Linked DNA regions of Homo sapiens: regions 1 and 2 are each linked to region 3. Evidence: fine-mapped expression QTL. A gene starts in region 3. Each other region holds a variant in brackets. All regions are shown on one strand. Distances are from middle to middle.

Region 1 (2,500 bases), 22 kb before region 3:
TTCTTGTTCAAACAAATTACAAAACCTCTGACACTGTGTTCCCTCATCTACAAAAGAGGAAAACCCCATCTCTGACACAGCTCCTAGGAGGGATGAGATCAACTGAAAATATGTGTAAAGGCTATGAAAAGAGTAAAACATGTTAACAATGTATAACATACTATGTTATTTCCAGAGTCCAATGTTATTCTTAAATAACTGACTCTTCAAGTCAGTAAGGGAAAAGGAATGGCTCGTACAAACCAGTATAGGATTAAAAAAAAAAAAAACAAAAACCCAAGGCAATTAAATATCATAATGATAATGATATCAACTGCAGACTTAAAAATTTTGAGAAACACTAGACCTATGGCAACACCAAACTATAATTTGCTTTTATGTAGGAGTAGAAGGGACTTGATTCAGAACATCTTGGCAAAAGTTTTATAACATACCACATTTATAAACAGAAATCTGGTTACTGGCATCTAGAACAGCAAGGTCATTACTCTTTTGAGGGTGTGCTAAGAATGTGACTTGATTCACAGGGTGTGGGAACAGCAGTTGGTAGGTGCACATGGGAGGCGGAACCACAGTCTGCCGGAAGACTGTCACCAACACCCTGTCTGCAGTGAAAAAGAAAGAAGAGGATTAGACCTAGGGATATTCAATTTGTAAGATAAGCCATCTGAACATCACAGTATATCTAAACAATAATGGCAATTCACAAAAAAATAACTTTCAATGTTTTTCTCAGGAACAAGTCTAAAAACAGTGTGGGATGGGGAAATGTCATGGGTTCTGTCCATAATTGGCTATTGTCACCTCTAGGCCTAGGGGAGTCCATCTCAGTACCTGGAGTTTCAGGTGCCAGGGACTAAGGCAAAAAGGCCAAGAGGTCAGACCTCTAGCTTTAAACCTGGGCCTGCAACCAAGCCACACTAAACCAAGGGAATTAATACTTTCAAAATCCTTAAAGCACTTTCCTATGTGTGGATTTGGTAATAAC[G/A]CAGATCTGATTAAGTTCTCTATATAGAATACATGACTATAAAATCAGTATTATGTAGAATATTACACAGAATATGAATTAATATACCACCTCACATTACAATCTTAGAAGCCAGTGCTCCCTTTCATATCAGCAATGAAACTATTCATTAAGGTGACTACTTCACTCTTCAGTCTTGCCCTTCCCACCCCACCCCCTAAAAAAACCTTCTACCTCATTATAAAATATAAACCTAATCTTCATATTAGGCAAACGTTTATGCATGAACTGAACATACTGGAGAGGTATATATCAGCAAGCATTTGTATCAGGAAACAAAGCAACACAAGTGGGGTGGTATAAGGGTCAATTATAAATCTGTGTCAGGGCAAACAGATAAAGCTAACACACCCAATCCCACAAGACTGTACTGTTGTCATCCTCTCTACCTAGAGTCAAAGTTTTCAGTGTCTTCAAAGGCCAGGCAAGTAAACGTGTGAAGGCCACAGATGCAGTATAACAGGAAACTGGTGGGGGAGGGGGGACAATGGTTCTCAGGAGAGAACATACCCCACCTTATATCCCATTCAATAAAAAAACAAGTAACCCAAACAGCCAAAACAAATAAAGATTCCCCACTGTTCCAGTCAAACCACCACATCTGCAGGCCCTAGGCTCAGGACCCCTTGCAGGCTCATGGACACACTTCCCAGGAGCTTACTTCCATCAATGACAGCCACATTGGACAAGTCACTTGAATTATCTCCCACGCTCCGGTCAGTCGTCCAGTGCCAATCATAGGCGAGGTAATGCCAGCCCTGACAGAGAACATGCAGCCGGTATGGGGTCACAGGGTCCCACATCAGAGACACAATCTTGCTCTTCCCACAGGTGCTGAAGGATAAACTTTGCTTGAGATACCAGTGATAGTTTCCAACAGTCCAGAGCTGAACTGCAAGGGAAAATGAAAAGAAGGCCGTTAGAGGCTGGGAAGCAGACTTCATCCCACTTGCCAGAGGGGTTCAAGGGCAATCTTTTCTTTTTCAAAGGACCCTTCCTGCTCAGCCTCGTCTCTAAAATAAGAACAATAATAACTGCCAAAAAATAGCTTTCCATGCAGATAAAATATCAAGAATCAATAAGGTCAGAAATATATGTTTATTTTCTTGTTTTTTTTCTATTTTTAACTTTTATTCATATGTTTATTTTCGTTTTTTTTTTTTTTTTATTGACACAGAGTCTCGCTCTGCCGGCCAGGCTGGAGTGCAGTGGCGCAATCTCGGCTCACTGCAAGCTCCATCTCCCGGGTTCATGCCATTCTCCTGCCTCAGCCTCTCGAGTAGCTAGGACTACAGGCGCCCACCACCACACCCGGCTAATTTTTTTTTTTTGTATTTTTAGTAGAAACATGGTTTCACCGTGTTAGCCAGGATGGTCTTGATCTCCTGACCTTGTGATCCGCCTGCCTCGGCCTCCCAAAGTGCTGAGATTACAGGCCTGAGCCACCGTGCCTGGCCCACATGTTTATTTTCA
Region 2 (2,854 bases), 86 kb after region 3:
ATGAAATTTTTCTTAAGTAGTGTAAGAATAAATTTAAACTAATTATAATTATCAGTGACTTCTTAGGGAGATGTTTTAGGAAAAATTATTAATATTTCTACCTTTAAATACTTTCCAAAAAGGAAATCTTCAACGCTTAAGAACTACCCCCCAACACTTTTTTTTTTCCTTGGGACAGTGTCTCACTCTCTCACCCAGGCTGGAGTGCAGTGGCGCCATCTTGGCTCACTGCAGCCTCGACCTCCTGGACTCAGGTGATCCTCATACATCAGCCTCCTGAGTAGCTCAGACTATAGCCACACCACCGTGCCCAGCTAATTTTTTTTTTTTTTTTTTTTTTTTTGTAGAGATGGGGTTTTGCCATGTTGCCTAGGCTGATCTCAAATCCCTGGGCTCAAGCAATCCACCCACCTCAGCCTTCCAAAGTGCTGGGATTACAGATGTGAGCCACCACCTACAGCCTGGCCAAGAACCCTTTTCTCTCCCACATTCCCCTGGGAGCAGAGGATAGGCCTGATGATTGTTTTAAACAGTAGAAAGGGTTCAGCTAAGAACTACAGTCCACTCTCAGCCCTGTCATGTACTATAGGACAAGTCTTCATTCACAACAAATGGATAGCAACACCAATCTCGTAACACTGGGAAAACTGCATACAATATTTAGAAGGAACACTAATACAGCAGAATCTGCACACAACGGAGTCAAAGATCTGAGGCCAAATCCTACTACACTTTACGACTTTGAGTTGGTCACTTTTCTGAACCTTAGCTTCTCCATCAGTGTAAAACTGATGTAAAATAATATAAAGCTATATGAAAGCTGATGTGATGTACTTGTGAAATAGTATGTGCAAAAGGACTTTGTAAAATGTAAAGCACTATGCTGGTTATTGTGATATCTGAGATATTTTTAAAGTTGCAATTCAATTCAACAAGCATTCATTTAGAGTCATGTGCAAGGCACTGTGCTAAGAGATGGGAAAATACTACATAAATACAAAATTCTGCTGAAAACTAACTTATTGGCAGAGTTCCAAATAATGAAACGGATACATTTAACAAATCAGAGTATTGCTACACCTGAGATTTTTCACTTCAACCACCTGGAAGGAGAAAACCTAATAACAGCATGAATTTTATCATACTGTTACCATTCATAGCAGCTTAATAAGTATTTCACTTCAACGTGGTCAGCCAAGTTTTATAATTTGGCAATAGTGTAAAGAAGCGTGAAGAGAAAAGGAAGAGGAGGAAGA[G/A]CTTCAGTCTTTGTATCTCCCAGGGTTATAATATAAAACTGAACATCAAATAAGCCACCCCACCCTTATACTTATGATTTATTATTTCTTAAAGAGCGTATAATACATTGTGGGAGAAGGGTAGAAGATTCATTTTTCCTGCTCACTCAACTACACACTCAAAAGTGAAAGCCCTCTTCCTTGAAAAGTGACTGTCTTAGAAAAGTTTAACAATACATTTCTTAAACCAGGAAAAAATTACACCATCTATTCTTTTAACAGCAGGTAGTTTAGAGTTCTTAAAATAACTTTATAAATATATAATATAGTAACATAGATAACCAAAGTGGAAAAATTTCAAGCCAGGGTACCAGTGTATAAAATGAAACTTTTCAAGCCATCTTAACAACAGTTAAGTGAGCAAACCACCAACTCTGAACTCTCAAGCTGTGTTTTAAAATACAAAGCAGCCCGCAGCAAGTTCTCTCTTGTCCAGGCATTCTGTATGTAAGGCCAGGAGGCTTCTGCTTCTTTCCTGGGTTTTGCTTGCTAGGCACAGCTGGAAGGGCAGAGGGCCACAGCTGAGCTGAACTCGCTGTCAAATTTGAACTTCCTAGAAAAATCACTGCAGAGGAAACCACATCAACCTACTGAAGATTTCAGATCTTCAGAAATGTCACGGAAAGTCCTAAAAGAAAAAAAGACGGAATGATTAGTTGATTACCATAAAACAGTATCCTATTTTTACAATCTTTTGGAGCCCTAATGAGATTATATAGTCACTATTTTTTCTTAAGATTTTCATTGAGTATTGTTTCAAAGTCTGCTAGTTGTTGCTCATTCTCATTAACAAGAACTCCATCTTTTTGCTGGATCTATCCAAAGGACTGTTTCCCCAGACTCCCCTGAAACTACACATGACCACGTGACTACGCTTTGGTTAATGAGATTTAAGTAGAAGTGTTGTGCAACTTCTGGGCAGTTCCTTAAAAGAGAAGAGCAATCTTCTTCAGCTCTTCCACCTTGTTACTGGCTGGAAGTGGATATGATGATTGATGTTAAAGAGGAAAAACCACTAAGAGACCAAAGATTAAATGCTAAGTGGATACATTTTATTACAAAATAGAAATCGTAATCCAACAGAGAGTCCAAGCTCTAAGGGATGTGGTTCAGTGCAGGAAAAATGGGTTAGGTCTTTTCATCAAGTGACCTTGTACTTGAACTGTTTCTGACCCACATTAAACAAGCTAAGCGAACAATGTTATTGGCGGGTAATATCTGGGCTGGATGAAGGTGGCTGAGCACCGTGCCTGACTGCTGCATACATGAAGTGTCTATCTCAGTACTGTAGTAGCTAGCTTGCTTTTGCTACATAATTTACATGTCTGAGCTGAGATAAATCACCTGGCTAAATTTACATCTGTGCTGGCAGCCAAATGGCCAGGTCAGAATTTATCAATGAACATGAGCTCAAGCACCCATATTAGACAAAAATGCCTCACACCAAGGCTGGCAGTACATCAGGATGGAGAGAGGCTGGGACCAGATGTTTATGCAACAGTGATACAGATATAAAGCACAGTCTATTACCATTCTTTTAGATAGAAGTTATATTGCTC
Region 3 (2,854 bases):
TGATTCAAACTCTTCGCAGTTCTTAAATGTGCTAAAGATCCCTCCACACCAAAGGTCAATCGTGGATTCTCTCTTAATTTCCTGATAACTGCTTCATTTTCTTCCCTTGCTCCTTCGACTATCCACCTCTTGGCTAGACATCACATGCATGATTACATATACCAGGTAGATCACCAATACGCTGATTAGGCCTAAATGCCTAGCCCTGACTGAATTAGCCCAAACTTACCACTAAACCCACATTTTCAACCTCCTGATAGAATCACAAGCATGTCTCACATGCACATCAAATGCGACCTGGAAAGCAAAGAACTTGCTATTCTTCCCCCAAATGACAGTTCCCACTATTTGGGGACAGACCATTTCTACTCTATGTCCCCAAGCTGAAAAACTGTCTTTGCTGCCTTTTTGCTTACTCTTCATACGGATCTATTCATTGATTAGTTCCGTGGCTGTCAATATACAGTTGAATTCTTTACGATCCGGTTTGTGGCCTACATCCAACACCGACTGAGCACTTGCTAAGTACTGGGATCTGAAGATTACTCAGCCACTGTCTCCACGGAGATCATCGTTAACGGGAGAGAAAGCCACGTAAAACACCACGTTAGATGGAGAAGCACAGAGGACACCACCTCCACGAAAAAGTCTCACACGCGAGAAAGGACCCGCACCACAGCACCCGAGCCTCTATTAACCGCCGCCTTCCATCGTGAATTAATACTCTCGCTTTCAGCGTTATTATCAACCCCCTGCAAGCAATCAAGAGGCTGGGTTAAGTCCGGCTGGAGGGGCAGCAGGCATCCCTGGGCTGTCGCGCCTCCCAGCGCCCCCGATGGAGCAGGTGGCAAGGCTGCAAAAAGAATTTAAGGCTCTAGGAAAGAGGTGGTGCAGCCCGCACTCCAGTCCCCGGCCCGCAGCAGGCAGAGGAGGCTCCGGGTCTCCTTCACCCGGACACCGCCGGCGGAGAGGTCCACTCCCGTGCCCCTACCCTGGATGGATCGCTTACCTGAGGACCCCCAAACAGAGGTGCGTCCGGCCTCGCCTCCCCAGCCACGCGCAGCCGGCTACCCAGAGTCAGCTCCCACAGTCCGCACCCAGAGTCGGCTCCGAATTGCGCACGCGTCTCTGTCCGCGGCTCCCGCTCTCTCTCCGACGGCACTAGGCCTCCAAGGATGGAGGCGCCCTCCAGGGGAAAACGCTGAAGCGCTGCAAAGAAGCCAGCGACTCAATGGGTGCGTCAACTAGGCAGCCGCAGCACTGGGAGTGCGGCGCGGGAGTGACGTCACCAGGCGGAGGGGGCGAGGCCGGGCCCGCTTCTGGTCACTTACGGCGGCCGGCCTTCTTTGTAGGCCTGGCACCGTAGAGGTAGAGGAGCTACATTGGCCGCGTCCCCTGTCCCTCTGCCCTCTTGCCCATCTGCCCAAACTTTTGTATTTGATCTCTGTTTTGATGTCGAACCCCAAAGCACTGTAATTGGGGGGGGCGGGGGGGGGGGTGGAACCTGCGGACCTGAGAGCAGCGCGCGTGCGCACGACACGCGCTGTGCGCCGGAAGAGCACGCCCAGTCCGGGCTGCGCGGAGGAAGCGCTGGGGTCCCGGAGGGCGGGGGTGGCGGCGCCGGAGGTCGCCATGGCTACCGAGCCCGAAGCCGCGGAGCCGGTGGTGCCTTCGCTCGTGGATCGATACTTCACTCGCTGGTACAAACCGGGTAAGTGCGGAGTGATGTTGATCCCTCCTTGGCCGCACTGGCCTAATGCTGTGTAGACTATGTTGACAGATCATAAGCCACGCGCGCTCTCCCTGGCTCTCCGTCCCCACGTCAGAAGGCACTGGACTTCTGTGTTCCGTCTAGCCCCAGGGAATGGCATTTGCAAAGACCTGGTGGCCTGAAATACTTCAGGGCGCATTCTGGGGCCGGCGATTGCAGTGCGAGCTCTAGGGTGTTGCTCGCAGTAAGATGAGTACTCTAAACGGAGGCCCCAAAGGTAGGCGGAGGGCTAGGTTGCAACAGTCCTTAAGTGCCTGGAGGGATTGAGGGGCTCACTCTCACAGGGAGTAGCGATACATAAAATTATTTAAATGATCAGATCGAAACTAAGGTAGAGGCAGTAGGGATGGCGAGAAGAGGGTGGGTTAGATTAGAGACATTTAGAAAGAAGAAGAATCTATACATTTACCTTAAGAGACGCCATCTGCCACTTAGAAGTAGGTATTCTTTTTGTACTGTTTTGTGTAAGCAGAACCAGTGGTGGGAGCATCGTTGGGGACTCTCCTTTCTTCCTTTCATTCAGTGATAATGGTTATACTCAGTTTAAAAAATATATATTGTAGCATATTTTCTGTTGGCCAAACATAGGGTGACCAACCTGTCCTAGTTCACCCATGACTGAGGGGTTTCCCAGAATGTCGGACTTGCACCAACATCAGGACAGTCCTGGAAACCACCAACAAAAAATATATATCATAAAGAACGGGATGCTAATTGCATTTTCCTAGCAAAAATACTACGTGTACTCATTTTGAAGTGAGTGTAAAGTAAGATGGAGCAAGGAGTTAATTACCTTAATGTTGAATAAATTATTCTATCTGGGCCAGATCTCTTTAAATACTTTCTAGGAAACCTTTAGGTATGTCTTTTTGAGTAATGAAGGGATACCCGTGATCAGCATGCAGCATGTATGTGTCCAGTCTTCATTATCAACTATATGACCCAAAGAAAGTACCACATAGTGGTAGTAAATATTGATTTCAGCCACCAACAGACTCATGTATTCTTCTAGATGTCAAAGGAAAATTTTGTGAGGACCACTGTATACTACAGCACTCTAACCGGTAAGCAAATTGGGAATTT

The links.
Region 1: its variant is fine-mapped to the expression of ABITRAM in whole blood (TOPMed, PIP 0.98).
Region 2: its variant is fine-mapped to the expression of ABITRAM in whole blood (TOPMed, PIP 0.97).

Annotation. Positions count from the first base shown.
Region 1 is chr9:108,910,576-108,913,075 of GRCh38, forward strand. It overlaps ELP1 (elongator acetyltransferase complex subunit 1), which reads right to left. Exons shown (of 37, transcript NM_003640.5): 11 at 1,689-1,919; 12 at 435-605. Among named protein-coding and RNA genes, the nearest start is that of ELP1, 22 kb to the right of the region's middle. The variant G/A (reference allele first, on the strand shown) is at 989.
Region 2 is chr9:109,018,583-109,021,436 of GRCh38, forward strand. TMEM245 (transmembrane protein 245) reads right to left here. Exons shown (of 18, transcript NM_032012.4): 18 at 1-1,923. The coding sequence ends at 1,878. Among named protein-coding and RNA genes, the nearest start is that of CTNNAL1, 6.5 kb to the left of the region's middle. The variant G/A (reference allele first, on the strand shown) is at 1,257.
Region 3 is chr9:108,932,855-108,935,708 of GRCh38, forward strand. ABITRAM (actin binding transcription modulator) reads left to right here and starts at 1,546. Exons shown (of 6, transcript NM_017832.4): 1 at 1,546-1,711; 2 at 2,784-2,835. The coding sequence starts at 1,633. It overlaps ELP1 (elongator acetyltransferase complex subunit 1), which reads right to left and starts at 1,270. Exons shown (of 37, transcript NM_003640.5): 1 at 1,010-1,270. RefSeq lists an enhancer at 513-742 and a silencer at 1,493-1,772.